Homo sapiens: one gene and its partners. The protein of the gene in region 2 interacts with the protein of the main gene of each other region in a biochemical or structural test. Each region holds a gene or a part of one and is shown on either strand. Other genes may lie near its edges. The genes, in order: ALDOA, CYTH2, IPCEF1 and ARF1.

Region 1 (7,702 bases), on a different chromosome or scaffold from region 2:
GTTTCCACTCCTCCCAGCACCCAAACCTGCTCTGGTTGGGTTCGTAGGGCAGAGAATCAAACAGTTCTCACCTTGGGTGGTAGTCTCGCCATTTGTCCCTGCCAGGGGGACCACGCCCTTGTCTACCTGTTGGGGTCAGGGTAACAACATTAAGACACAGGAAATGACCTCTAGCACCCTTTCCACTGTCGCCCCGGCTGGAGTACAGTGGTGGAATCTCAGCTCACTGAAGCCTCCACTTCCTGGACTCAAGTGATCCTCCCGCCTCAGCCTCCTAGGTAGCTGGGCGTGCCCCTCTTTCCTCTTCTTTAGCCCCAGTCTTCCCCCACATTTACTTAATCCCTTAAACTGCATCTCAGGGCTGGCAAATATTTTCACTTAGTTACAATTAAAATATTTAGTTACTTAAGCCGGGCATGGTGGCTCACGCCTGTAATCCCAGCACTTTGGGAGGCCGAGGTGGGCAGATCACGAGATCAGGAGATCGAGACCATCCTGGCTAACATGGTGAAACCCAGTGTCTACTAAAAATACAAAAAAAATTAGCCGGGTGGTGGCGGGCGCCTGTAGTCCCAGCTACTCGGGAGGCTGAGGCAGGAGAATGGCGTGAACCTGGGAGGCGGAACTTGCAGTGAGCCAAGAGATCGCACCACTGCACTCCAGCCTGGGAGACAGCGAGACTCCATCTCAAAAAAAAAAAAAAAAAAAATTTACTTAAAATGTTTAGTTACTCAAATACTTAGTTACAATTAAATTAAAATATTTTCACTTAGTTCACTTAGTAACAATCCTCTGAGACAGGATACACTGGGATGTTATTTGACAACAGAAATGTTGAGTGAATTGGGTGTCAGACTGGGGCTCTGCCACTTACTCTGAGCAAAACACTTCACTTCCCTGAGCTTCTGAGATTTTCATGTGTAAAGTGGGAATGATACTGTTCTCTCAGAATTGTGAGGATTAAAAATGTCGAGTAAATGCCCTAAGCCTGAAGCAGGCTCCATGCAAGTCTCTAGGCCACCAATCCAGCATTCATTCCCTGCCTCACTAACCTGGATTTCCTTCCTCCACTTCCATCTCAAACCTCACGTCCGGAGGCCCTCCCCTTACCTTGATGCCCACAACACCGCCCTTGGATTTGATAACTTGGGGGAAGGGACGCCCATCATCCGCCTTCTGGTAGAGTGTCTCATGGAAGAGGATGACACCCCCAATGCAGGGGTTCACGCGGTCGTCAGCTGTCAGCAGCAGCTGGCGGTAGAAGCGCCGGTTCTCCTCGGTGTTCTCGGTGCCAATGGACTGCAGCCGCTTGGCAATGCTCCCTGGGAGTGTCACATGGGAATTAGGGGATCAGCCTGCCACTCCCAACCCTGCACCCTCCACCCATTCTGTCTCCTGCCCGCACCAGTGGACTCATCTGCAGCCAGGATGCCCTTGCCAGGTGCCACGATGCGGTGAGCGATGTCAGACAGCTCCTTCTTCTGCTCCGGGGTCAGTGCTGGATATTGGTAGGGCATGGTGCTGGTAGTAGCAAGTTCCTGGATACAGGAAACAGAGGGGAAGGACTAGTTAGCTAGGGTTTCCCATCATCTCCCGATGACCAGGGCCCCTCTCCTGGAGGTCAGGGAAATGTTCCCTACCTCCCCTGCCCCACACCCAGCAGGCCCTGGGGCACTTCTGGTCCCCAGCTCTCTCTTACGCCCAACTTCCCTTTGCTAGGCCTGCCCCTGTACCTTTCCTAACTCTGTCTGGTGCTGGGTGTTGCCCAGCTGAGGGTGGAGTTGCCCACTGGCAACTGGGGGAAAGGAAAAGGCCATAGCCATGGACAGGTGGGTCATGTTGAAGCTGGACCCTTCTGGCTTGCGCCTTGCCATGGGGTCACCTTGCCTGAAAACAAAACCGAACCGGAGTATTTTAGAATGTAAAGATCGTGAATCAAGCAGAGGGCCCAACACCCTCGTGGGAAAGGGCCCAGATATGGGAAAGGTCTGTGCTTCAAGCCACACAGCAACCCCGGAGCCAGATCTGAGATTAGAACCCAGCTCTTCTGACTGCCACTGGGGTGTTCCTTCCAATCCCCTCAAGATCCCAGGGCTGGCCCGGGCTCCAAGGCTTCAAGGACATCCCAAGGTCAGGCTTTTCCCCACAAGGGAGGGGGCGGGTGGTAGGAAAGGGGCATTAGGAAAAATATAAGAGAGCAAGGAGAAGCCCAGGAAAGGGCGGCGGAACAAGCCCTAGCCCGAGGCGAGGAAAGCGGTAAGCTTTGCCATCGTCACTGTTCCTACGGGGCAAGAACGTGGAGGAGCAAGCGCCTTCCCCTGAAAAATGCTCCCGTCGCTTCGCATGGCTGCAGCTGTTCCGGGCTCAGAATCAAGGTCGCCCGATAAGGAGAGACAGGGAAAGTGTTAAGGGGGCATCAAGCACCGCGGAGGGGTTTCCCTCCTCGCGAAGGGCGCCCCGTTTCCCAGGACAGAAACCAAGCTCCCACTTGCGAGAACCCTGGGGCTGTACATGGGCCGGCCCCCACCCCTCACTGCCTCTTAGGATCCCCGCCAGGGCTAAGGGGCCCTAATCCTTTGCCACAGGGGTCCCTGCAAGAAAAGGGGGAGAATGGTCCTTCATCTCGTCCGGCTTCCTCCCCCGCCATGACTCAGCGCGCGCAGCCGCTGCATTGCGCAGTTAGAGGACCTCAGGCTGGAGGGGCCGGGGAGCCTGTGTGTGCCTGGTAGTGGGGAGACGCTGGCATGGGATGGGGGAGGCCTCCACGCGGACGCCCAACCCGCCACTGCCCCCAAGATCCCTCTCCACGGTCCCTGGTCCCCGCACGTGAAGAGGGGCGCTCACCTGGCACAGGAGAGGGGCGGGTGTGCAGGGTGCGGCGGCAGAGGGCGGCGGGCTGGCGAGTGGATTCAAGGAGAGAACGCGGGACTCGTCACCAGGACCCCTTCTGCGGCGCGTTCCGAGAGGAACGCAGCCGATTTAGCCTCGGAAGGGGCGGCGCAGGAGGCGGGCAGGCGGAAGGCGGCGCCCGGCCTTTTAAAGGCACCACTCCGCCCTCCGCCGAGCTTTTTCCTTTACGAGGAGCGGGCGGCGTCCAATGGCAGGCGACGGACTGGGCTACGGGCCGCCCCCGAGAGGCGCAGCCCAGAGGCCGCGCTAGGAAGGGGCGGGCGCCGAGAACACGATCCCTCCCCACCCCCCTCGGACGTGACTCGGACCACATCCCGCGGGTCGCTAGGGCCCTCCCTTCTGCTCCTTTCCCCCAGCCTGGCGCGCTCTGGGGCGCCGTGACTCAGCCAGAATGTTGGCAATGGGGGAGGGCGGAACGGGGAAGTGGAGGACGCGGATGGAAAAGTCGGAAACGAAGGAAGCTGAGTTTCGCCTCCCAGGCCCAGCGCGCGCGGCCCGGGGCCGCCCCAGCTTCCGGTCTTCGCGGCTGCAGCGCGTGTCACCATAGGGGCCACATCGCGCAGTCGTGCGTTAGCCTGCCTCGCCCGCGGGCTGAATCGGCGCGGAGCCGACACCCTGTCACTGGCCCAGGCGTAAGGGAGGCGGAGGAAAGGGCATCGAGAGGACACGCAGGGAGCGCGAGAAGGCGGCGGAACTAGCGGCGCGCGGAGGCGAGACCTCCCCATCCGAGTTCCAGGCTGGCAGGCCGGGCTGGGTCGCGCATGCGTGCGCGCTCTCCGCCGGGCCGCCGCAGCCAGGCTGGTAGTCCTCTGCGCCACAGAAAACCAGAATGCGCGGCTATGCACCGGCCGCTGCTCGGCCTCTGGCATGCGGGGTCACAGTTCCTGCCAAACGTCTTCCTTGAGCCTGACTTCCTTCTCCAAAAGAAAATCCGTCCCCGAACTGATCTGCCTCCCAGATGCTGAGCCCCCTGCTCCTATCGTCCAAATCTCCCCTCCTCACCTGGACCCCATCTGGACCCTGTTGGCCCAACCCCAACCCCATCCCCACCCCGGCCCGGTCCTGCAAGGGGCCCACCTGCGGCGAGGCCGAAGGAGCCGGCAGAGCCTGGTCAGCAGCGAGTGAGCTAGGGGTTCCCGGGCTGGTTATAAGGCAGCTCCTGCCCGCCCCACATGTGTCCCCGATCTTCTCTAATGACCCCTGCCCTTTTCCCGCCACGGATCCTCTGGCAGGGACCTATATTTAGGGAAACCTGAAGCCCCTGACATTCACACTATCGTGGGGCCCGGCATGGGGGAAGGGGGAGGAAGACTTGGGTCGGCCCTATTGATGGGGAGGGAGCCCCTGCCCACTCACCGGTGCTTCAGAGGAAATTCTTCCTTGGAAATCCAGACGGAGGCCCTTGGTTGTCAAGAGAAATAAATCTTTGGCCAGGGACCTGTGGGAAGGAAAGGGGTGAGGGGACTCGGATCACGTGGCCTCCCTGCCACCCTCCCTGGCTCCTTCTCTAATCTCCCTCCTCCCTTGACTCCCTGCGGTGATGGTGGCTGTTCTGATTCTCTGGAGCCCTGGTTTTTTTTAAGAAGGAGAGTAGATACTGGCACTACACTCACCTCCTAAAATAACGGAGAGTCCGTGGACGGAGTGTGGTTGAGGCACCCCTGCGTACCCGGTACTCAAGGGCCAGACTCCTCCTATAACACTTGTGTGTGGTGAGCAGCGCCACCCCCCTGCCCAACTTCAAATAGAATCGTTGACGTGTGGAGGGGAAGGGAAGCCAGGGCACCTGCCCGAGCACTAGCCCCTCTCTTTTCTGGCCCTCCAGAGGAGCTGCCGTCCAGCCGGCCAAGAGTCCTGCCCTGCAGGGAGCCAGGCCCTGCGCTGCCACTTCCAGTTCCCAGGCCTGGGTGCTCGGCAGGCCATCTGTGGTTCCAGTGGCGTGGGGAAAGGCTCTTCAGGGAGGAGGGCACATGGGCCCTGGGGGCTGGCCGCTCCCCAGAGGGCAGGGGCCCTGGGTCCTCATCGGAGCTTGATCTCGAAGCAGAGACAGTTGAGGCTCTGGCAGTCGGGGAGCTGGCACGTACAGGCACAGTCGCAGAGTGGGCAGCAGCGGGGGCAGCGAGGTGCCCAGTCCTGAGGGAGGAGAGAGAGGGTTGAGGGAGGTGGGATGGGGCCACGTCTGTTGCTCTCTAAGGGGAGAAGGGAACAGAGAGGCCTGGGAAATCTCACTTGCCCAGTGGAACAGAGGGTACTGTCCATCATTCCCAGGAACAGTGCAATTCCCTGTGCTGTTGAAAAATCAGCAGTGAGTCCTTGTTCTGAACAACTGAGTTCAGAAGCTAGAAGCAATGATTCAGGGTTCTCTCCTTCCCATTTTATGGGTGAGGAGACTGAGGACCAGAGAGCAACTGGCCCTGGGTCCCGTGCTAGAATTTGGGCCTCCCGGTGTCAAGCTCAAAAGATGGTTCTGCTACAGTCCCGGGGTCTGTGCAGTTGAGGCAGTAGACAGAGAAAGCACACACATTTTTCTGTCCATCATGAAAATGACTTGTGGGCTTTATGGACTTCTTCAGCATGAGACCAAAATAGAGGGTCTCATTCACCATTTTTGAGCATCTACTCTGTGCAACGAACAGACCGCATTCATGAATGATTTTAAAAATCTTTACAGGTATCTTTGAAAATGGCAATTTACCTATTTTTAATTTTTTTTTTTTTTTTGAGACAGGGTCTCACTCTGTTGCCCAGGGTGGAGTGCAATGGTGCGATCTTGGCTCACTGCAACCTCCACCTCCTGGGTTCAAGTAGTTCTGCCTCAGCCTTCTGAGTAGCTGAACTACAGGCGTGAGCCACCACACCCAGCTAATTTTTGTATTTGTAGTAGAGATGGGGGTTTCACCATGTTGGTCAGGCTGGTCTCGGAACTCCTGGCCTCAGATGATCCACCTGCCTCAGCCTCCCAAAGTGCTAAGATTAAAGGAGTGAGCAACTGTGCCCGGCCATTTTTTTTTTTTTTTTTCCGAGATGGAGTTTCACTCCTGTTGCCCAGGCTGGAGCACAATGGCGTGATCTCCACTCACTGCAACTTCCACCTCTGGATTCAAGCGGTTCTCCTGCCTCAGCCTCCCAAGTAGGTGGGATTACAGGCATGTGCCACCACACTTGGCTAATTTTGTATTTTTAGTAGAGACAGGGTTTCGCTATGTTGACCAGGCTGGTCTTGAATTCCTGACCTCAGGTATCTGCCCGCCTTGGCCTCCCAAAGTGCTGGGATTACAGGCATGAACCACCGTGCTCGGCTCATTTTTTGTACTTTTTTTTTTTTTTTTTTGAGACGGAGTCTCGCTCTGTTGCCAGGCTGGAGTGCCATGGCGCGGTCTCGGCTCACTGCAACCTCCGCCTCCTGGGTTCAAGCGATTCTCCTGCCTCAGCCTCCCAAGTAGCTGGGATTACAGGCACGTGCCACCACGCCTGGCTAATTCATTTTTTGTATTTTTTTGTAGAGACAGGGTTTCATCATGTTGCCCAGGCTAGTCTCAAACTCCTGGGCTAAACCCACCTTGGTCTCCCAAAGTGCTGGGATTACAGGCATGCGCCACTGCGCCCAATCAATTTTAATGTTTTCAAAAGAATTAGATCTATTTGTTTGTTTGTTTTTTCAAACGGAGTCTTGCTCTGTCACCCAGGCTGGAGTGCAATGGTGGGATCTCAGCTTGGGGCAACCTCTGCCTCCCGGGTTCAAGTGATTCTCCTGTCTCAGCCTCCTGAGTAGCTGGGATTACAGGCGCCCGCCACTACACCCAGCTAATTTTTGTATTTTTAGTAGAGACAGGGTTTCACCATGTTAGTCAGGCTGGTCTCGAACTCCTGACCTCAGGTGATCCGCCCACCTCGGCCTCCCAAAGTGCTGGGATTACAGGTGTGAGCCACCGCGCCCAGCCTTATATTTTTTAATTACCAGAATCCTGAGTAATGGGCTTCTTTACAAAAGAGAAAATGGATGGTTAGACATGGTGGCTCATGCCTGTAATCCCAACAACTTGGGAGGCCAAGGTGGGCGGATCACTTAAGGTCAGGAATTCAGGACCAGCTGGGCCAACATGGCGAAACCTCTTCTCTACTAAAAACACAAAAATTAGCTGGGCGTGGTGGGGTGCACCTGTAATCCTAGCTACTCAGAAGCCTGAAGCAGGAGAATCGCTTGAGCCTGGGAGGCAGAGGTTGCAGTAAGCCGAGATCGACCCACTGCACTCCAGCCTGGGCAACAGAACAAGACTCTGCCTCAAAAAAAAAAAAAAAAAAAAAAAAAAAAAGGAAATGGAGGCATAGACAGAGAGGCAAGTGATGGGAATGGAGCTGGGATGTACAGTCCTGCCTGCAATCCCTCTTGAGCCCTCTGCCTCCCAGTGCCAGGAGCATCAGCCTCTCTCTGGGTCTGCCAGGGCAGGGGCAGCTCATCCCATATTCTCCACTGAGCTAGCACTGGACTCATGCTCAGCAGGTGTCTGAGATATAAATGAATGCTGAATGAATGGATGAATCTAAGCATATCATTTGCCTTCTTTAGGCAAAGAAGAAAGAAGAGGGCTTCTCAGCTCCTGGAGGAAACAATGTCTGTCTCTTTGGGGAATAGGAGCAGCGTGTCCTTAGAGACAAGAAGGGAGAACTGGTCTATCCAGTGCACTGCTGTCCTCCCCTGGGACAGGGATGACCCGCAACTGCCTTAGGCATGGGCTGGAGTCAGGCCAAATGGCTGAAGTGGCCCAGGATGGCTGTGTGACAGAAGATTGGC
Region 2 (7,014 bases):
GCGATCTCCTCGGGTGTGTTCTGCAGCAGTTCATTCTCCACCAAGAACTGGATCCCCTGGTGGGTGGGGACAAGGTCTCAGTGCTGAGGGCCAGAAAGCCACCCCACTCACCTCCCTGGGAACCTCAGCATCCAGACCTACCCCCACCCTCAACAGACCAGGGCCAGGTTTCATTTTCAGCCTTCTCACAGGTCTTAAATAGCATTCTTCCCAACTCATGGCCTTTGCACTTCATGGCCTACCCTCTCTGCCTTTGCCTGGTTAATTCCAGCACCAACAACAGGGTCTGGCAAGGCACAGGTGCTCAGTACATTTTCTCTTTTTTCTGAGACCTGGTCTCGCTCTATTGCAGACTGGAGTGCAGTGGCGTGATCACAGCTCATTGCAGCTTCGAACTGCTGGGCTCAAGGGATCCTCTCACTTCGGCCTCCTCAGAAGCTGGGACTATAGGCATGCCCCAACACACCTGGCTAATTTATTTATTTATATTTTTTCTAGAGATGAGTTATCACTATGCTGCCCAGGCTGGTCTCAAATTCCTGGCTTCAAGCAATCCTCCCTCCTCGGCCTCTCAAAGCACTGGGATTACAGGCATAAGCCACCGAACCCAGCCAATCAATGTTTGTTGAATGACTGAACAGAATTCCAATTGCTTCAGGAAAGAATAACGTGACAACCTGTTAGCAGACGCAGTCCTTCAAGGGCTGTGAACTCGAAGCCCTGGCTAGACTGGAGGTTTCTCTCACTCTCTGTGCTACGAAGACCTCTCTACTACTGCTTTATCTCACTGTGAACTGTGGTATCGGTGTCCAAGGGCTCTCTGAGCACAAGGCAGCATCTAATTCTTCTTTGGGTCCCCAGCATTGCCCTACACAGGATCAGACTCTTGAGAGGCCTCAGAAAATGGGTGTTAAATGAGTATGTGAACAGGCCAGGCACGGTGGCTCATGCCTGTAATCCCAACACTTTGGGAGGCTGAGGCGGGCGGATCACCTGACGTCAGGAGTTTGGAAGCAGCCTGGCCAACATGGTGAAACCCCATCTGTACTAAAAATACAAAAATTAGCTGGGCATGGTGGTGGGAGCCTGTAAGCCCAGCTACTTGGGAGGCTGAGGCAGGAGAATCGCAGGAGGCGGAGGTTAGTGAGCCGAGATCACATCGCTGCACTCCAGCCTGGGTGATAGAGCAAGACTCTGTCTCACACACACACACAAAGAGTAGGTGAACAAAAGCCTTTCCTCCACCTGGTGAACACCTACTCATCCTTCAAACCCGACCTGAATGTCTCCTCCTCAAGGAAGCCCTCCCTGACTCCACCAGCCTGCCTCCTCCAGAGGTCCACTACCCTGATACCTTCCTCCGTCACGGCACCTTTGTGGGAGAGAGGTCAACTCTCCTTTGTGCATGTCACTTTGTCCACAGCCCCTACAAGACTCGAGCTCATCTTGGGACCAGAAATGCGCCCATACAAGTAGAAAGTGGAAGACGACCTTCCAGGCAGGGGACAAAACAGTCAGGAGGGCTGGAACACTTGGTCAGTGTTCAGTGTTCAGAAAACAAATGGACAGCCAGTATCTGAATCCAGGGATTAGGACCAAGTCTGTCCACCTAGAATAGACCCGGCACCATCACGCTTCTGGAACCCGGAGGTGCCAGAAGCCCCTGCCTGGATGTTTGCCCAGCTGATCCCAGTCCTGTGGCCCCAAGCACCTTCTTGGGGTCCATGTTGAACTTCTTCCTGCCCATTGCCATCTTCCGGTTCCGTTGCAAGGTCTTACTGCAGGAGCAGAGAGCAGGGTTGGGGGTGGAGGGTCAATGCCTGGGCATCCCTGGCCTCAGCCAACCCCACGCCCCCTAGGTCATCCGCCCCAGCCCTCACCTGCCCTCATTGGCCTCCAGCCCCTCCACCTCGCTCATGGCTTCACTGAGCTCCTCCCGCAGGCGCTGAATCTCCACCAGCAGCTCCTGCTTCCGCCGCCGGATGTTCTCCAGCTCCATCCGCTCCTCCGGAGTCAGGTCTGGGGGTTCTAGGGATCGGGGTCAAGGTTTAAAAGTCAGTGCTAGGGGCCGTGAGCCTGAATTCCTGCAATCTGGGGGCGGACAGAGCTGGGAGAGGATGTGTAAGGGGCTTCCTATGTCTGCACAGAAGAATGGGCTGGGGGCCTGGATTCCTCCCTGCAGAGGAGAAAGAGCTGGGGCTCTAAACTCTTGAGTCCTGGGGGACAAGGGGAATTGGGGCCCGGATTCCTGAGTCTGAGGGAGAAGGGGAATGGGTGCCTGAGCTCTTAGATCTGAGGGAAGAAAGGGCTGGGGGCCTCGGCTTCTAGGTCCATTACTTGGAAGGGGACTGAGGCCTTGGTTTTCTGACTCCATTACTGGCGAGGTAGCTGGGGACCTGGTTATCCGGACTACTGGGTCCATGAAAAGTCACTACAGCCGGGGGAACTGATGACAGCTCAGGAGAGTTGGGAAGGTGGGGCGGGACATCGAAGGCCCCCGCCCCCCAAGATTTCTCCCCTCCCCGCAACCCAAGCGCCCCTCCCCGGCCCCGGCAGGCGCTGGGCTCGCCCGCCCCTCCAGCGGGAATGGTTCCGCCCCGGCCTCGCCTCCACCACTCCATCCCGCCCCTCCCGCCGCCACCGGAAACAGGCTCAGCCCAAACAATGGCCTGGAACGCCCGGCTTTCGGGCCCCGCCGGAAGCCCGTCCAGCGCCCAACAAAAGCGGCGCGACAAGTCTACGACTGAGCCGAACGCTTCTGGGCGCCGCGCGCCAGGGGGAAACGTTCGCGGCGGAACGTTCAGGAGAAAACGCTCCAGCAACTCCCAGCCGACCCCGCCCCTCCCCGACCTACCATAGACGCCGTCCTCCATGGCGGCTAGGAAGGCCCGCGGGGAATCCGGGGCGGTCCCGCCAGTCGGGCCTGGATCCGCGTTGGCCCGCGGGCTCGGGTGAGCCCGCTCAAACGCCCCGGGAGCCACCGCCGCCTCCTCAGCGCCAGTCCTCAGCGCTGAAAAGACTCTTCCCTTCGTCGCCCAACCGCCCCTTCAGTAGGGACCGCCCCTCTTTTTGACACTGTCCAATCCACAGTGGGCGCTTTCGTCCTCCCCGCCCTCGCCACCAAAGGATCGTTCTCCAGGGCCAACAGTCGTACAAAAAGCCGGTGTAGGTATGTCCGGCCAGAGGTAGACGGCCCGCGGGGCCAATCGGAGTGCAGGCAGGGCAGCAGGCCCCGCCTCCGAAACAACAGAAAGCACTTGACAGGCTTGCTCTCCAATGAGAAGCCCCGGAAAAGTGTCGCGCGGAGGCGGAGCCACGCGGTACAGCCACCTCTGCGCCTGCTCAAAGGCCCTGGACACTTGGAGTCTAGGTAAACCGAGCCCCGCCTCCGATAATACGTTGCTAGGGGGCGGTACTTTGTTAGTCTTGTTGCTAGGAGGCGGGGCTAGAACTGGCTTGTTTCCGTAAGCCACACCTCCTAGCAGGCCATGCTGGCTTCTGACCGCAAAGGTTGCCATGCAACCGGGAGCGGCTTTAGGCCTCCTTTTCTTTTGCATTTCTTCTCCGCGTATTTCCCCTCCTCTCAGCCCCTTCTTACCGCCGAACTCCTTCTTTATCACCATCTATGCCCTCCCCATCCCCCTCAGCCTCTTCGGAGTCGTGGAGTGGTGAAACAAAAGACTTCTTCGTTTTTTCTTTTTTTTTTTTTTTTGAGACAGAGTCTTGCTCTGTCGCCCAAGCTGGAGTGCAGTTGCGCGATCTCGGTTCACTGCAACCTCCGCCTCCCGGGTTCAAGCAATTCTCCTGCCTCAGCCTCCCGAGTAGCTGGGATTACAGGGTTGCACCATGATGGTGCATGCCTGGCTATTTTTTGTATTTTTAATAGAGACGGGCGTTTCACCATGTTGGCCAAGCTGGTCTCGAACTCCTGACCTCATGATCCGCCCACCTTGGCCCTCCAAAGTGCTGGGGTTACAGGCGTGAGCCACCGCGCCTGGCCAAGATTTACTTTTTTCTAAATGCTATGCTATTTGGTATCGGTCATGGGGAATGGAACAGGGGAAGGTGAAATTTAGTGAAAGCACAGGCTCGGCCTTCCTGGCACCTTCTGCCGCTCAGACTCCTCCCTCATTTCTCCAAACTCCTTCCTTTAGCTTAGCATCCTCCTAAGACTCCTCCCTTCCCCAAGCATCCTCCTGCTAAGACAACTCCCCTTTCCTCAGCATCCTCCCACCTCTCTGATTCCTTCTCCCATCTCAGAGGCCTTTTTTCCTCTCTGGCTCCCCTCACGTCACGGTCCCCCTTGTCCTCTCATACTCTTGCCCTTTTTTTTTTTTTTTTTTTTTTTGAGACAGAGTTTTGCTCTTTTGCCCAGTCTGGAATGAACTGGCATGATCTCAGCTCACTGCAACCTCCACCCACAAGGTTGACGCGATACTCCTACCTCAGCCTCCCAAGGAGCTGGGATTATAGGCGCCCACCACCATGCCCGGCTAATTTTTGTATTTTTAGTAGAGACGGGGTTTCGCCATGTTGGCCAGGCTGGTCTCAAACTCCTGACCTCAGGTGATCCACCCGCCTCAGCCTCCCAAAGTGCTAGGCGTGAGCCACCGTGCCCATAGGCGTGAGCCACCGTGCCCAGCCACCCTTGCCCTTCTTAAACTCCTCCCTCCTCTGAGGCCCCTTCCCCTTCCCCTTCCCCAGCCTCTATGTCCCATTATTTGTAACGGAATGTGGTCAAGGGACTGGCTGGAATAGGGAACCCAGGCACCCCTGTAAAGAGGGAAGCCGTAATGGGGGCTGAAGTGGTGTCTGGGCCTCGTCCTCATTTGCTGTCCCTGGGCTGGGCAGGTGGAGACGGATTCAGGGCCAGGACCTAGTTAAGCTGTCGGATTAGACATGGAGGCTCCTAATCCCCTCACTGACCTTTATGAGTGGCCCAGGCCCTGCCCTCCCCAGTGGAAACCCAGGCTGGGCTGCCCTGCTCCCATACTCCTTTCAAACGAAACCCCCTCCCTGCCCCTTCACTTCCAACTTAACATCCTTCCCCAACCCTGCGTTTCCATTGCCCCCATCCCTACCTACCCCAGACACCCTGAGCTGAGAGAGCAGCCAGCTAATTAATCCCATCCGGTTATTACATGGGGATTCTGAGGGATAAAGGGAGATGGAGAAGCTGGAGGGGGCATTTGGGTTGATGCAGCACTTGTGAAGGCTGAATGGCAATGACAGTGGCTGCCCTCGGTCCAGAACACGGGGTGGGAACACGTCCTCCTCACTGTCACTGGCTCCCTCTGCAGTTGGCTCCCAGCCTGCGGGGCACTTAGGTAGATGGTAGCATGGGCAGGGGGCCAGGTCGGAGGACCCATGCTCGAGAAACACATTCGCAGACACATCCGCTAGGGCTCCCAGTTCTTTAATCTGGGGGACAGGTCTCCCCCTAAAACACTCACTCTCCCACAATGGGAAGAACCCTGGTGTCCAGAGCTACCTCCTCCTCCCCAGGTCCCCAAGCTAGGCCAGGGAAGTGACTCTGGCTGTTAGCCACAGCCCACGCCTACCCTTGCCCTGTGATTCAGACACCCGAGTTCAGAGCCAGCCTCCAAGAGTATCTTACATCCCAGCGTCTCCTGGAAGGCCGTATGATCCAGCACTGGGGAGAGGAGGGAAATCCCCAGGACTCGAATGCCCATCCCACCCTTGGTGTAGTGAGGACTCATCCTGCTGGAAAGGCCCCTGAAGAACTTCAAGTTCCAATATCCCGTTTTTACAGATGGGGAAACTGACATGAAGAGGAGTCCAAAGTGACACAGTAAGTTGGGGCAGCATTGGGATTTAGAGCAAAGCTTCTGGGGTCCTTGAAAAGGACCTCATTCCAATTAGCTAGCACTCCATCTCTAAGCCTGTTGTAGGGACCAAGGGAAAAAATAGATAGATATCTGTATTTATATTACATATATATAATATACATATGTATAATATCTTTAAGAAACAGACACACGGCTGGGCATGGTGGCTCACACCCGTAATCCCAGCACTTTGGGAGACCGAGGCAGGTGGATCATCTGAGGTCGGGAGTTCAAGACCAACCTCGCCAACATGGCGAAACCCCGTCTCTACTAAAAATACAAAAATTAGCCAGGCATAGTGGCTCATGCCTGTAATCCCAGCGACTCAGGAGACTGAGGCAGGAGAAACACTTGAAGCCGGGAGGCGGAGGTTGCAGTGAGCTGAGATCACGCCATTGCACTCCAGCCTGGGCGGCAGAGCGAGACTCAGTCTCAAAAAAAAAAAAAAAAGAAAAAGAAAAAGAAATAGACACACATCACTAGGTGTAGGGTTCCAGAGCATTCTAGACTCACCAGCCCTGGGCCTCCCCCTTCCCTTGTCCACTAATTAGCCCTGTGCCCTACAGGGTCTCACCTTCACCTTCACCTTCCAGGTCAGGCCAGAAATGTTGCTTCTGAAGTCCTGAGTCCACCTCCTAGCACTGCCAAGCAGTCCACCTGGAGGTGATGAGAACTTCCAGGCTTTGGTAATGGACAACTCTGTATCCCTGGAGCCTTCATTCCTTTTGGCATTACAGAACCACAAGAAGTCATCTAGAATCATTGAGATTCTCAACTCCATTGGGCAAACTGGAACCAGCAAAATCTCAGATATCTAGAATTGCCACTGCTTCCTTGACTCTGTGATCAGTCTACAGCCACAGAATCCTGATTCCCTTTGGACATTCTAGAATGGCACTTTAAAAAAAAACAACCCACCCAGTGGATCCTTTCAAAGCACTGCTTATTCTCTTGGCTGGGTGCTCTACAGCCAGAAGTTGGAGTTATCTAATATCAAGAACTCTTAATCTGTCACTTCAGTCTTTCTAAACCCACAGACTAACAATGTTTTGTGCATTCTAGAAACATTACTCTTTAGTTTCTGGAGTAGTTCAACTCTCCACGTAAAATCTGTCCTAGACTCACCAGTGCTTGCCTCTGTGGTCAACCTAGACTCACAGAATCT
Region 3 (7,804 bases), on a different chromosome or scaffold from region 2:
TTCCTCCTTTTTGGACTTAGCATTACATCATGAGACTATTTCCATAAATATCATTTTCTTGATGACATTTCTTTATATACCACCATGTGTTCAACCATTCTGATAACTAGGCTTATCATATTTATTTTAAATTAATGATTCTTTTAAAAACTCACTTTCACTTTACAAAATTCAGAAAATGCACAAAGCATAAAGAAAAAAAGAGAAATTAGAGATTAAATTTTTAAGCGTGGCTCTGGCAACTTGAAAACTGATATCGATAACTGCCATTTAATGCAATCATATTTTTAACCCTCACACAACAACCCAAAAAGTCAATATGTTATAGTCACCACTTTATAGGTTCGGAGGTCACAGAGCTGGTAGGTTCAGAGATATAGATTTTGAACAGATATGTCTGAGCCCCCAACTGTGTTTTCTCTTGGCTAAATTATACTGACCTTCCCATGATTACCTCCACCATTACCTCTACTACCATCACCTCCAACCACCATCTCCGCCATCTGTACCATCACCTCTACCATCACTTCCTCAACCATCTCCACCATGTCTACCATCACTTCTACCATCTGTCACCTCCACCGTCACCTCCAACCACCATCTCCACCACCACCTCCACCACCACCTCCACCATCTCCTCCACCACCACCTCCACCATCTCCTCCACAACCACCTCCACCATCTCTACCGTCACTTCCACCATCACCTCTACCACTCCAATCACCATTTCTACCATCTCCATTACCACCTCCACCATCGCCTCCACAACCACCTCTACCATCTCCACCGTCACTTCCACCATCACCTCCCCTACGACCACCACTTCCAACACCACCCCCTTTATCTCCACCTCCACCTCCACCACCATGTATCGCCAACCCTTTCACTTTACTGACCTGGGGATTTTTCTGATCCCCGTTCTACACACCCTTTCTTTACTCCACACCTTCATATTCTCCTCTCCTCCTCCACTCTGATCTTTTCTAACATTCACTTTTTAAAGTGCCTGAGTAACAGAGATAAAGCAATGGCTTTCCTACCACATTCATTTTATGAATTATGCCAGTTATTCATTCATTCAACAAATATTTACTGAGAGCAGGCACTGTTCTGAGCACTTGGGAGCACAAGTAACTCCTCCATTTGCAGGATTCTCTTTAAGGCTAAAAAGCTTATTTTTTAGGATTTTTCTTCACACACACACACACACACACACACACACACACACACACACACACACACCATTTGCCACATTAGACCTACTTGCAAATTGTTAACCTGTACTGCAATTATCAGCTCACACTGCAGAGCCTCCAAGCTGGATGGAAAGCAGAAGTGAGCTGTTCAAAAGGATGCACGAGTCAAAAGGAAAGTCTCAGGCAATAGTGATGAAGTAATTTCTTATCTCTTATTGCCACAGCAAACTACCGCAGGAAAGAACTTCCTATTTCCATACTCTGATGATGTATATTTGCTTAACACAGCTTGCCTGAAATAGTTCATACATGGACCCACTCCAGAAAAGACACTTGATTTATAAAAAGAGGAATGGAAGGAAATTATAAGGTAAATTAAAGAATGAGTTCATCAACACATACACAAACTTACACCCTTTTCTTCCTTGCTTGCATGATGTGAGCAGAAAGAAATGTGTGTTCTTTCCATTTCTGTTTCTTTTCTTTCTTTCTTTCTTTTTTTTTTTTGAGATGAACTCTTGCTCTGTCACCCAGGCTGAAGTGCAGTGGCGCAATCTCAGCTCACTGCAACCTCCGCTTCCCGGGTTCAAGCAATTCTCCTGCCTCAGCTTCCCAGGTAGCTGGGATTACAGGTGCATGCTCCCACGCCCAGTTAATTTTTGTATTTTTAGTAGAGACGGGGTTTCATCATGTTGGCCAGGCTGGTCTCGAACTCCTGACCTCAGATGATCCACCCGCCTTGGGCTCCCAAAGTGCTGGGATTACAAGCGTGAGCCACCGCACCCGGCATTCTATTTTCTATTTTCTTTTCTTTCTTTTTTTTTTTCTTCCTGTAGAGATGAGGTCTCATTATTTTGCCCCCAGGCTGGTCTCAAACTCCTGACCTCAAGTGATCCTCTCGCCGTGGTCACCCAAAGTACTGGGATTACAGGTGTGAGCCATTGTGCCCAGCCCTCGGTTTCAATTTTCTACATAAAATAAATAACTCGATAGAAATTAGACTTTATCAAGGACAGCACTAGGAACACATAGGCCACTCAAGACTAATAGAGCCCACTGCTGTAGTCAAAGATGCTTCAGTGGGTTATAATTCTGACTTCTATAATTAAATACTTTCACATATACCCCAGCAAAGAAAAATCAAGTGCCCCAGACACCCTTACTAAAAGACTCTGAACCAACAACACCTAGCTTTCATTTTTATACCAGAGATATTTTGGCAAGCCTGAGACCTTTATCAAAGTGTAAAATGTCCCCCAGCTGCCTCCATGCAAAGGAAGCTCCCTTGCAAAGAACACACTTTCTCGAAAGAGGGCGGCCCCAGAGTGCTTCCCCAAATGAACTCCTCAGGACCCAAATACATGCTGAATTGTGCTTTTCTAAATCAAACCTGTGGTCTGCAGTCTAAACACCTATCAAGACAACACCCATTTAAGAAACATAAAAGCAGAGTGAGTACACAACTCTCTCCTCTTTCAAAGCTTTCACAGAATTAAAGAATCTTTAGCACCTGGCTTCCCAGATTACAGAGAGCTGAGTGAATATTACATCCCCAAAGTCATATTTCCTACCTCACTACTCTAAGGAGAGTGCTAGGGTATCCATTGCTTTGCCATCTTGATCTGTCAAGCAGTTACCTCTCATACATCAGCCAAGAAGTGACGTTACTTACATGCAATACAAAGAGAGTAAATCCAAGAGCAGTCTTATTCCTGGATTCAGAAGCCTCATAGTACTCTGAGGCCAAGCTTGAGGATTCTACTTAAAGCAGCCTCAGCTCTGGAAACTCAGTCAACCCAGAACTAACATTCAAAGCTGATCAGAGAGTAAAGCTCTTTCGAAAGAAGAGGAAGTATCATCTCCACTTCCTCAATCCTAACGTTCTTCCTTCTCATTGTTATGAAACCCTTCCTTGATGCCCATATCCAGGACACAGTACATGTAAGGCAAGCACACCCCATCTGCCTGAGTTCATTGATCACTAAGCACTGCCCAGTGTATTCATTTGCCGAGCACATTGGTGGAACAGTTCATGGTTCTGCTTTCCTGTTTTGGAGGCAAGGATGTTCATTTACAGGCATGGAGGGTGAGATGATCTGCAGAGTCATTCTCAGCATTTTTGGGTGAAATGCCACTTCAACCTCTTTAGGTTCAATCTTCTTTCAGATTTCCCTCTTTCCTCCTTTCCTAATCGTTCATAATGCTCTAATAAAGAGAGGGTACAGACACATTTGTAAAACGTATTTTAGGATAAAAATAAGTCTTAGCCTGCCATCTTTTGCAGTAGACATAGAAGAGTCTCTAACCACAAAACTTTTCTTTCCCACATTGGAAAAGGAAAATGGCAGGCTGAAAGTCAGAGATATTCCATCTCATTACAAATTCCTGCCCTCCCAATCTCCCTTTCAACACCAGCTTCTTGTTTCTCTATACCTTCTAGGGAAATGAATACAGCTGGGCGTGGTGGCAGATGCCTGTAATCCCAACCACTCAGGAGGCTGAGGCAGGAGAATTGCTTGAACCTGGGAGGCAGAGGTTGCAGTGAGCCGAGATCGCACCACTGAACTCCAGACTAGGAGACAGAGCAAGACTCCAACTCAAAATAAATAAATAAATAAATATGTATGTGTATATATATATATAATATATATATATAATATATATATTATATATATATTATATATATATTATATATAATATATATATTATATATATATTATATATATAATATATATATTATATATATTATATATATATAATATATAAAATATATATATTATATATATAAAATATATATAATATATATAATATATATATAAAATATATATAATATATATAATATATATATAAAATATATATATAAAATATATATATATATAAAATATATATATATAATATATATATAAAATATATATATATAATATATATATAAAATATATATATATAATATATATATAAAATATATATATATATATATATATATATATATAGAATATATAGAATATATAGAAACCTAATCCCCAATGTGATTGTATTTAGAGGTGGACCTTTGGGGAGTGATTAGGTCATGAGGACAGTGCCCTCATGAATGGTATTAATTTTCTTATTAAAGAGAACCTGGAGATCTGCCCACCCCTCCACCATATGAGGACATGGCCAGAAGACAGTCACCTAGGAACGAGGAAGCAGGTCCTCACCAGACAATGAATCTGCTGGCGCCTTGATCTTGGATGTCCAGCCTCCAGAACTGTGAGAAATAAATGTCTTTTGTTTGTAAGCCACCCAGGCTACGGTGTTTTGATATAACAGCCTGAATGACTAAGACAAAGATAAAATGTAAACTAAATCTGTGGAGGAGTGAAAAAATGAAAGAAGATGCTGTACATTTTGAGCAGGAACAAAATGAAGGTTCTCTCAGCGGCTTCTTGTTTGTGTACACTTCTATTTCTGGAAGTGCTGCCTCATCTTCTCCCTATATTGAGTTGTCTTCTAGTTCCCTGCTTTACGTAGAAAAAAAAATGGTACTAGGTGATATTAAAGGAATTTAGTGGTATCAACAGCATGGCCTGGCTTCTCACCAGACATTTAGATGCCATCATCAAAGATATCCTCAAAAGACATGTTATTTACCTTTATGGGGCCAGAATAGAGCCACTTAAATTCTTTGAGCAAAGATGATTTGTAGAATTAGAATAATCCTCAAAACGGCCGGACTGTCAGTTCAAGATGACGGGCTGACCACAGATTTGCTCCCTCCCTCCCCAAAGACTCCGTTAAAATGAGAAAAGTATAAAAAGTTTATAGGGCCGGGCACGGTGGCTCACACCTGTAATCCCAACACTTTGGGAGCCCCAGGCTGGCAGATCATGAGGTCAGGAGATCGAGACCATCCTGGCTAACATGGTGAAACCTGTCTCTACTAAAAATACAAAAAATTAGCCACGCCTGGTGGCACGAGCCTGTAATCCCAGCTTCTCAGAAGGCTGAGGCAGGAGAATCGTTTGAACCTGGGAGGCGGAGGTTGCAGTGACCTGAGATCGCGCCACTGCACTCCAGCCTGGGTGACAGAGCGAGATTCCGTCTCAAAAGAAAAAAAAAGATATAAACCCACAATAACCCAAAAAAGGAGGAAAAGCATCAGAACTTGGGAGAGCACAACAGATTTCTGGCAGCCTGAAAGCCGATGGAGGAGCAATAACAGATGGAGGCAGGCAGGGGAACCACAATATCTCATTAGTTAGGAGAACACGGCGTTGGAGGAAATTGCCCGTGTGCGGTGCTGAATCCCTGAGAGGACCGGAACTCAAGCCAAAAGAAGCTAAGAGAGCTAAATGAGTGATAGGGTGACAGGACTGAAAACAGGAAGAGTAATTCAAAGTCTGTAAGAACTCAGCCCCTCCCATACCCCTCTTTCAAATCTCTCTGTCCGCCCAGCCTCTGCACAGCAAACACACACAATTCCAACCCCGGGCAGCATACCGAGGATTCGTCTCTACACATAGTGAAATCATGCAGAGAATACAGGCATTGTATGTGGATATGAGCACTCCACAGTCAGAACTCCACATTCTGGCAATAAGAGCCTCATCTAGCATGTGCTGGATGATGGATGATGTGCTTTTTTTTTTTTTTTTTTTTTTGAGACAGAGTCTTGCTCTGTCACCCAGGCTGGAGTGCAGTGGCATTAATTATCTCGGCTCACTGCAACCTCCGCCTCCAGGGTTCAAGTGATTCTCCTGCCTCAGCCTCCTGAGTAGCCAGGATTACAGATATGTGCCACCACACCCAGCTATGTTTTGTATTTTTAGTAGAGACAGTGTTTCACCATGCCGGCCAGACTGGTCTCAAACTCCTGACCTCAGGTGATCTGTGCACCTTGGCCTCCCAAAGTGATGGGATTACAGGCATGAGTCACCACGCCTGGCCTAGATATGCTTCTAATCAGTATCCTTAGAGACAGTCCTGAAGATATTGTATCCATTAAAAAGAACAGGATGCTAAGAAAGATAGATAATCTGAAAACAAGAAAGACCCCTTGGATATTGCAAATATAATTGTTAAATAAAGATTTTGATAGGTTGGGTGATAAATTCAAGTGAAATTTTCAGGAAATATTATTTGATGACATAGTCAAAGAAATAACATAAAGGATCCCCCTGAAGTCCAAGAATATTTAGATTAAAAAGTCTCATCGAGTGCCTAGGATGAAGAATTTCAAGTCACTGCAAAATTTCCAAACTCCGGAAATAAAGAGAAAATCTTAAAATCTCCCAAACACAGAAAATAAGTCACTTTCACAGAAACAAGGAATCAAAGGGCTCCAGATTTCACAGAAGTAGCATTAAGGGTTAGAAGGTCAGCGAGCACAGCCTTCAAAGTTCTGAAGGATTTATATTTCACTCTAGAATTTTGTGTTCATTCATCCAGTGTATTAGTCCATTTTCATACTGCCATAAAGAACTGCCAGAGACTGGGTAATTTCTAAAGGAAAGAGGTTTAATTGACTCTTATAAATTAAAGAGGTTTAATTCAGCATGGCTAGGGAGGCCTCAGGAAACTTACAATCACAGTGGAAGGTGAAGGGAAGCAAGGCGCCTTCTTCACAAGGTGGCAGGAAAGAGAAGTGCTGAGTAATGGGGTAAGAGCCCCTTATAAAACCATCAGATCTCATGAGAACTCACTCTCACAAGAACAGCATGGGGGAAACCACCCCCATGATTCAATTTCCTCTACCTGGTGTCTCCCTTGACACATGGAGATTATGGGGATTACAATTCAAGACGAGGTTTGGGTGGGGACACAAAGCCTAGCCATAGCATTCAGCAAATATTTTTGAGCACTGTGTCTAGGCAGTGAGGACGCAGCAGTGAACCAAATAAAGTCCTGCCCTCAGGGAACTTCTTTTCTCATGCTCAGATCAGGATGGTGTACTCTCTACACAAACAAAGAAAGTAAAATATAATGTGTTAGGTAGAAGTAAGTGCTAAGGAGGAAAAATAAATCAGCAGAGGAAATATATAGAGTCTAAGGAGAGGCTAAAAATTAGATGGGGAGGCCAGCAAAGGACTCACAAAGGTGACCTCTGAGTGACAGCCTGGAGGAAGTGAAGGCGTGAGCTGTGTAGACAGCTAAGGGAAGAGAAATCCGCAGACAGAGCCCCAAATGCAAACATCCTGCCACCCCCAGAGCCTTTTGGTGCCGCAGGAACAGCATGGGGGCAGGTGTGGCTGGAACAGAGCAGAGCGGGTCAGAGATGGAGAGGGGAGCCGGGGAACCCATGATTATGGTTAGGTCCTATGGGGATCGTTGTGAGAACTTGGGTTTTTGACTCTGACCAACTAAACCAGGAGCTGACAAACTATTTCTGGAACAGGCCAGATAGTAAATATTTTAGATTTCGTGGGCCAATCTCTGTTCAATTACTCAACCCTGCCATTGTGGTATCAAAGCAGCCATAGATAACATGTAAAAGAGCAGCTGTGCTCTAATAAAACTTTATCTAGGGCCACTAACATTTGAACTGCCTATAATTTTCACGCATCACAAAATCTTCTTCTTTTGATTTTTTTAAGCACCTAAAAATGTAAAAAACTGTCATAACTTACCAG
Region 4 (7,019 bases), on a different chromosome or scaffold from region 2:
TGATGGCCCCATCCCAGAAACAGGTACCCCCAGACTGGCAGCCCCCTGCTGCATGGCATCTTGAGGAGAGGTGGGGGCTGTGCCCACTCAGGCAGGGACCATTCCCTGGTTGGCACAAAGCCCTATGTATGCTAGCAGTGGCCCTGCCCCATAGCCAGCTATACAAAGTGGGGTTCAGCAGCAGGCCGATGGAGGGAAGGACGGAGGCTGAGGTCTTCCATGGTGCCTGCTGACCCCTGCCCTGTATGGCCCAGGTCTCATTGGCTGGGCCCGACAGGACTGCAAACGAGATCAAGGTCACTGTGGGCAACCATGCTGGAAGAGCCTCTCACACAGACACAGAGAAGTGCCTGCACACTCAGGAGGGAACATGGGGAGGGTGTGGACTGAGGTGGCGGCCCTAGGCAGTCACCTGTACTTCCTAGAGTAAAGCTGGCTGATGCACCCACCATCTCCTGGGGGCAGCATGCCTGTGTGGAAGCACTGGAGAGCCGGTGAAATAGTTAAGAGATTTTATTCTAATAGCTATAATTACAGTGCTTGTTTGTCGAAATGAAAACTGAAAACAAGTATACAAAACAGTTGATTACTAATCGTGTATTGAAAGCAGTAAGAGGTTCCACGACACCAAATAGACCAGTTCTGAGGTTTCCCCAAGATAAATTTAACAGCTCCAGCTTCAGTGTTTATCAAAATACAAAAGAAAAAAGTAGAGGTTGTCTTTTTCGATGGCAAATCGGACCCTTGCAGGCTGAGGGAGAGAAAGCTACATCACACACAGAGGTGGGGTGCTCCCGAGGGGCTGTGGGTCTAGGTGGACCGCCTGCCCGGCTTGCACGCGCTCCTGCTGGTGAGGCCCCAGACATCCTGCCAAAGTGTCTGAGCGAGCACGAGTGTTGGGGACGACGGACCCACTCTGGCCACACGGCGACCGAGGGACAGATGGGGCCCTGCGTCCCATAGGCTGCCTGAAGGTGGGTAGGGCGGCCTGCGGCATAGTGGGGTGGCTGTGGGCTCCCAGCCTGGCCCCTGGGAACCGTGGGAGCACAGGGACAAGCACATGGCTATGGAATGCAGGGTGACCCAAGGACAAGCGAGTTGCGGGGATCTCTACTGTGACCATGCAGAATTGATCGCAGTCTGCTGCGCCACCACCACCTCATGTTCCCGAGGGGAACAGCTGGGCTGGCGACTGGCATCCAGGCCGTAACTGCAAATCTATGCTAGGCGGGGTCTCCCTTCTGTGTGTTCAAGTGTTCTCGACTTGGATTCTTAACTATTTTAAAAAATGCACTGAGTTTGGGTTAAAAACCAACCACCAAAATGGATTTCAACACAGCTCTAAAGCCAAGGGCGTGGCCGGCTCTCCCAACACAGCGACTCCTGGAGGCCAGGTGCCCATGGGCCTACATCCCCTCTCAGCACTGAACAGTGAGTTGATTTTTCTTTTTACAATAAAAAAAGCTGAGTAATATTGCATAGGAGTACCAGAAACTGCCTCATTGGAAACAAAAACTATTTACATTAAATAAAAAGCCTGGCCGCAGGCTGCGTCTGCCACATTTACAGCACGGTGCGATGCACACGGTGACCAAACCACGGAGGCAGCTTCTGGCACTCACACCACGAGCCGCACGTTTGCCACATGAGAGTAAAGCAGAGGGCAAGAGGAGTGAGAGGGAGGGGGGTCGCGTTCACTTCTGGTTCCGGAGCTGATTGGACAGCCAGTCCAGTCCTTCATAGAGCCCGTCGCCGCTGGTGGCGCAGGTGGCCTGAATGTACCAGTTCCTGTGGCGTAGTGAGTGCAGCCCCAGCTTGTCTGTGATCTCGGCCGCATTCATGGCGTTGGGGAGGTCCTGGGGGAAGGAAGGGTTGGTGGGAAGGGCTGTCCACAGGACAGAGAAAGGGGCCCCACCAGCCTCCAGTAACCCCTACCACCAGGCGGAACCCACACTGGCTCCTCACATTCCCCAGGCTGGCCCGGGCGCCTACCTGCTTGTTGGCGAACACCAGGAGGACAGCATCCCGGAGCTCGTCCTCGGCCAGCATCCTCATGAGCTCCTCACGGGCCTCGTTCACACGCTCTCTGTCATTGCTGTCCACCACGAAGATCAGGCCTGCCGGGCAGCCAGTGTCAAATGGTCATGGGAACACAGCCCCCCTGCCGCATCTATGGGCATCGATGCCCCATCTATGGGCTGGCCCCCCCTCTCTAGAAGCAGGAGTGCCCATGGGACCAGGCCCCAGCCACTTACCTTGTGTGTTCTGGAAGTAGTGGCGCCACAGGGGCCGGATCTTGTCCTGGCCACCCACGTCCCACACAGTGAAGCTGATGTTCTTGTACTCCACGGTTTCCACGTTGAAGCCTGGGTGCGGGATGCAGGGTGAGGCCTTGTACCTTGGCCCAGCCCAGCCCAGCCCACTCCCTGCTGGCCCCCACCTCACCTATGGTGGGAATGGTGGTCACGATCTCACCCAGCTTAAGCTTGTAGAGGATCGTGGTCTTCCCTGCAGCATCCAGGCCCACCATGAGGATGCGCATTTCTTTTTTGCCAAAAAGGCCCTTGAAGAGGTTGGCGAAGATGTTCCCCATGCTTGTGGACAGGTGGAAGGACACTGGCCAGGGACACCTGGAGAGACAAGGTGCTCCATGTCTGGTTCTGTGCTGCCCAGCAGTGGTTGCTCAGAACCCACCCACCCAGGGATGCACCACTGCCTCACCCCACCTCCTGGAAGCCTGCAGGGAAACAGGGAAAGAGCCCTGCCTCCCATGCCCCCCAAATCCACCTCAGGATGGGGGCTGAGGGAAAATGGCTGAGTCAGGAATTGAGAAACTGTTGCCCTCATCTTGGGAAGCTGTCCCCACAGCTGCATGGCCAGAAAGGCTGCCTCATCCCAGCCTATGCAGGAGGGGAGGCTGGCTGCCTGAGGACTGGCTTCCAGGTGCGTGCAAGGCTCCTCTACACCCCAACACAGAACCTTCCAGGGCCAGAGAGCACCACTCACTGTGCCTGCCCACACTCACAAGGACCAGAGCACACAGGGCCACGCCAGACTCAGCAGGACACCTTCAGGGACACACTCCCATGAGGACACAGCCTCGATGGGGCACGCCCGCCATGTCTGCCCCACACCGCAAGGGTAGGGGTTCCCTCAGCAGAACACAAATATCGGGGACAGCAATTAAGTCAGCTGGCACCCACCATCAGAGCCCTGCGGAGACTCCAGCAGGAAGGGCCTCCACTGCCCAGACGCCTCTGTGAGGACACTGAAGTTGTTAGGCTTTGGCCTCACTGGCCAGTGGGCAATTTCACGAATCAGGTGATTTTATCCCGAACAGGGACTTTAGAAAACACTGGTCACTTTCTGAAACAATGACTGCTTCTTCACTGCACCCGCAAGCGGGGCTTACCCCGAGTGAGGAAGGCTTCTGCCTTCAAGAGGACATGCCAGGAGCCTGTGAGCACACCCACCCCTCATCAGACCTCCTCCACCAGGGGTTCCACACACAGGTGGCTTTTGGCTGAATCACAGCCATGACTGTCCGCTGGTGACTCTCTCATCCAGTCACCCCAGCACGCTACGGCAAGGAAATGCCTCTTCTCCATTTCTCAACATCAGCAAGAGCCCACACATGCCTGTGTGTTTCAGTGGGTGTGAACTGGCCGCCCGTGTCTGATTTAACACTGCCATCATCCCAGATGAGCCACAGAACCCCTTCAAGCTGGATCAGTGTCCTTTGGACACTTTGCTCTTGGTTTTGAACATGTCACCTATTCTGAAATTTAAATGAGTTCTGAAATTTATAAGGACCTTCACTGTAGTGTTCCCTTTTTGGGGACGGCCAGGTTTTCTAAGCCCAGAGGAAGACCACCACCCATGGAGCACAGAAGAGACTGAATACCTGCCCTCTCAGTCCACTCCTGCAACCACTACCAATGAAGACACCAAAATGACACACACGCCTTGAAGGGCAGAGAGAAAAGGGAGGAAGACCTTGGATGTGATGATTGACCAGGCAGAGAAAACTGGACCGCCTGGGACCCAAGGGATGAAGCTGGGACTGCCTAGGGCAGCAATGTCCAATCTTGGCTACCCTGGGCCACAATGGAAGAAGAATTGTCTTGGACCACACACAAAATATACTAACACAACAGCTGGTGAACCAAACCAAAACAAAAACCCCCAAAATCTCAATGTTTTATTAGAAATTTGTGTTGGGTCGGGTTCAAAGCCATCCTGGGCCACATGCGGCCTAAGGGTTGGACAAGCTTGGTCTAGGGGAGCAGCTGCAGCAGGGCTTAGGCCTGCGCTGAGCCATGACAACACACTTGAGCCATGAAATTCCAGAATAATTCCTGAGAGTTCTATATGCCCCAGCAGATCCACACACAAGCAACTGGAGCTCCGCCCACCCCCACCCCCCACCAAGAGACAGGCCTGTCTGCCTTTGAAAGGCCACCAACATAAGAGACCCAAATATAAAAGGAATCTGCAAGGAGGCAACCAAGACAGGAGACTGAAGACAGAATACTATTTTAACAAAGGACAAGGAGAGAAACCTGATAGATACACAAATAGCTGAAAAGGAAAATTCAAAATGAAGGTGCTCAGAAGGCAGAACAAAAACAAACAGAATGAAAAAGGAAGATGAGGAGTAACTTAAGATATCAACCAACAGAAACCCTAAAAAGAAAGAACGTACGAAATTACGGGGTGAAATTTTTCCCTGTTCCAGAGTGGGGACCCAGGAATCTGGGCTTCGGCCTCAAAGGGCTGAAGCGCAAAGCCAAGGACCTAGATGAGACCCAATAAAGGTGCAAGGTGGACTCCAGAATGCACAGGGGCAAATGACACCTCTGATGCCCCAGAGAATGGAAGACTCTGAAACACTGCTTTCGAAACCCTTTAATTCTATACCCAGCCAAAGTATCCAACAAGTGTTAGGGGAGAATGAAAATAACTCCCAAACTGCAGGGCCTCAGATCTCTCACATGCTCCCTCCCTAAGAAGCTCCCCCAGGGAACCAGGGAGAGGATGCGAGCCCACAGCAACGTGGAGAGAGAGCAGCAGCCTAGCCAACCCCACATGGAGAGAGAGCAGCAGCCTAGCCAACCCCCTCAGACTGGAGCAGGAAGTGGACACCTGCAAGAATGGGGCACGCCACCTACGTATTCTTATTATGGGGTTGGGCAACTCTAGGCAATGCGGAAAAACTAATAATGACAGGTTCGCATGAAAAACCCAAGCATGAAATGGAACGAAAAGAGGGCCTTTTATGAGTTACTCCAGGAAAACATATGGTGGAGGATACTCAGGGAGTCCTGATGTTGTTATTACTAGGGGGTTGGAAAGCTGAGGCGAGGGTGTGTGGTGTCAAAGGCTTGTTAACTGTACAAGTTAACAAGTCTAGGAGGAATAAACCTAGGACACCAAGTCAGCAGGGACTCAGGAATAAGGGTCGCCTGCCAGTTGGGCAGAGGCAGCACCAGACTGCCACGACCACTGAAGCACAGCACTTGGGAGAATTGACAGTAACACCCAGCCACTCAGGGGAAGGGGTGTCACACCGTCACCAACCCCCTCGACCCCAGCACTGTCCGTGATCCACACATGCCTGCTGCCTCCTCATGCCCGGGGCAGTGCCGCCAACCATGCCCAGGAGATCATGCAGCCTGCAGGCAGTGGGGTTTGTGATGCCAGTAATCCCAGGCCCTCCCCATTGGTGGCTTTTTTTTTTTTTTTTTTTTTTGAGACAGAGTCTCACTCTGTCATCCAGGCTGGAGTGCAGTGGCTTGATCTCAGCTCACTGCAACCTCTCAGGTGCGATCTCGGCTCACTGCAACCTCTGCCTCCCAGGTTCGAGATTCTCTTGCCTCAGCTTCCCGAGTAGCTGGGACTACAGGCGCGTGCCACCACGCTGAGCTAATTTTTATTTTTATTTTTAGTAGAGACGGGGTTTCACCATGTTGGTCAGGGCTGGCCTCGAACCCCTGACCTCAGATGATCAGCCCACCTCGGCCTCCCAAAGTGCTGGGATTACAGGAGTGAGCCACCACGCCCGGATTTTTTTTTTTTTTTTTAACAGACCAAAGCGTTAAGAGTCCCCAAAGGAGGGAAGCCACCCTGCAATGGAATGGCAGAACCAGGATGGGTGAACCTGAAGTCTCAGGTGTCAAGACATCGGCACACAGACAGCTTGGTCTCTCCTACCGACAAGCACATCTGTGGCCCTGCTGCACATATGGGCAGAGGGTGGCTGGCACGTCCTGCCTCGGCATGTTCCAGCATCCCCACAGGACCCTATACCTGGCAGCCCCTACATCATTTACTGCTTCTGTGACAGATGGAGACCCAATAGAGTTTCCTAAGAGGGAGAAAGAGTCCACAGCAACCCCCACCCTCAATTCCAGGGCCTCTTGGTACGGGTCCTAACTTGTGTCATGCCCAGGCCAGGTGCTGTCACCCTTTCTTCCACCAGAGTCCCTGCACACAAGCCAAAACCCGCTTTTCAGGTTCATCGGAATTATCCTGTGGTAGGAGCAAACCTGACTTTCTCAGAGCCTTCCTGCTTGTACACAAGGGGACCCCTCACACTTTGAGAAGGGGCTGCCCAGCAGGAGGATGCCAGGAGCCACCAGTGGCTACTTCTCTTTCCTGACCACGCTGTGGGCTCCAACTCTGAGGAAAAAAAGTCTTTTAGGAAGAATGTTTCTTTCTTCAGTGAGGACCACAGACCAATGGTAAAGGTGGCCTTCAGGCATTACACCAAAGAACGGGACAGTCAACTCTGGCAGCTACATTCCCCGACACCTCACTGTGCCTGAACAGGGGCAGGGAGAAAATGTAGCTCTGTGAGTTCACATCCGTTTTGTGTCCATGAATGGATCCAACCAAACTGGTCCAGATGCACATGGGGTCCAGATGCCTCTGTGGCCTGTACCCAGACCACCAGCCAGTACTGTCCTCGGTCCCTTGCAGATCTCAGGGATACTTTGGCATGAGTCAGGGAAGGGAAC

What was found.
Region 1: the proteins of CYTH2 (region 2) and ALDOA form a complex in vitro, tested with the Homo sapiens proteins (one study listed by BioGRID).
Region 3: the proteins of CYTH2 (region 2) and IPCEF1 form a complex in vitro, tested with the Homo sapiens proteins (one study listed by BioGRID).
Region 4: the proteins of CYTH2 (region 2) and ARF1 are reported together in a solved structure, tested with the Homo sapiens proteins (3 studies listed by BioGRID and IntAct, with this or other methods).

What each region holds. Positions count from the first base shown.
Region 1 is NC_000016.10:30,061,070-30,068,771, reverse strand, and holds the start of ALDOA (fructose-bisphosphate aldolase A), read right to left. Parts: upstream 3,013-7,702; 5' UTR 2,845-3,012; intron 1,888-2,844; 5' UTR 1,875-1,887; coding exon 1,734-1,874; intron 1,539-1,733; coding exon 1,406-1,538; intron 1,323-1,405; coding exon 1,111-1,322; intron 127-1,110; coding exon 72-126; intron 1-71. Other genes in the region: uncharacterized protein LOC112694756, read right to left, coding at 4,930-5,043. UniProt on the Homo sapiens protein: Catalyzes the reversible conversion of beta-D-fructose 1,6-bisphosphate (FBP) into two triose phosphate and plays a key role in glycolysis and gluconeogenesis. In addition, may also function as scaffolding protein.
Region 2 is NC_000019.10:48,465,367-48,472,380, reverse strand, and holds the start of CYTH2 (cytohesin-2), read right to left. Parts: upstream 3,013-7,014; 5' UTR 2,874-3,012; coding exon 2,855-2,873; exon of another isoform or gene 2,848-2,854; intron 2,743-2,847; exon of another isoform or gene 2,423-2,742; coding exon of another isoform or gene 2,338-2,422; intron 2,029-2,337; coding exon 1,881-2,028; intron 1,779-1,880; coding exon 1,712-1,778; intron 57-1,711; coding exon 1-56. UniProt on the Homo sapiens protein: Acts as a guanine-nucleotide exchange factor (GEF). Promotes guanine-nucleotide exchange on ARF1, ARF3 and ARF6. Activates ARF factors through replacement of GDP with GTP.
Region 3 is NC_000006.12:154,353,804-154,361,607, forward strand, and holds the start of IPCEF1 (interactor protein for cytohesin exchange factors 1), read right to left. Parts: upstream 3,001-7,804; 5' UTR 2,869-3,000; intron 1,338-2,868; exon of another isoform or gene 1,264-1,337; intron 1-1,263. UniProt on the Homo sapiens protein: Enhances the promotion of guanine-nucleotide exchange by PSCD2 on ARF6 in a concentration-dependent manner.
Region 4 is NC_000001.11:228,092,689-228,099,707, reverse strand, and holds the end of ARF1 (ADP-ribosylation factor 1), read right to left. Parts: intron 2,631-7,019; 5' UTR 2,594-2,630; coding exon 2,446-2,593; exon of another isoform or gene 2,367-2,445; coding exon 2,256-2,366; intron 2,118-2,255; coding exon 1,993-2,117; intron 1,857-1,992; coding exon 1,695-1,856; 3' UTR 496-1,694; downstream 1-495. UniProt on the Homo sapiens protein: Small GTPase involved in protein trafficking between different compartments. Modulates vesicle budding and uncoating within the Golgi complex. In its GTP-bound form, triggers the recruitment of coatomer proteins to the Golgi membrane.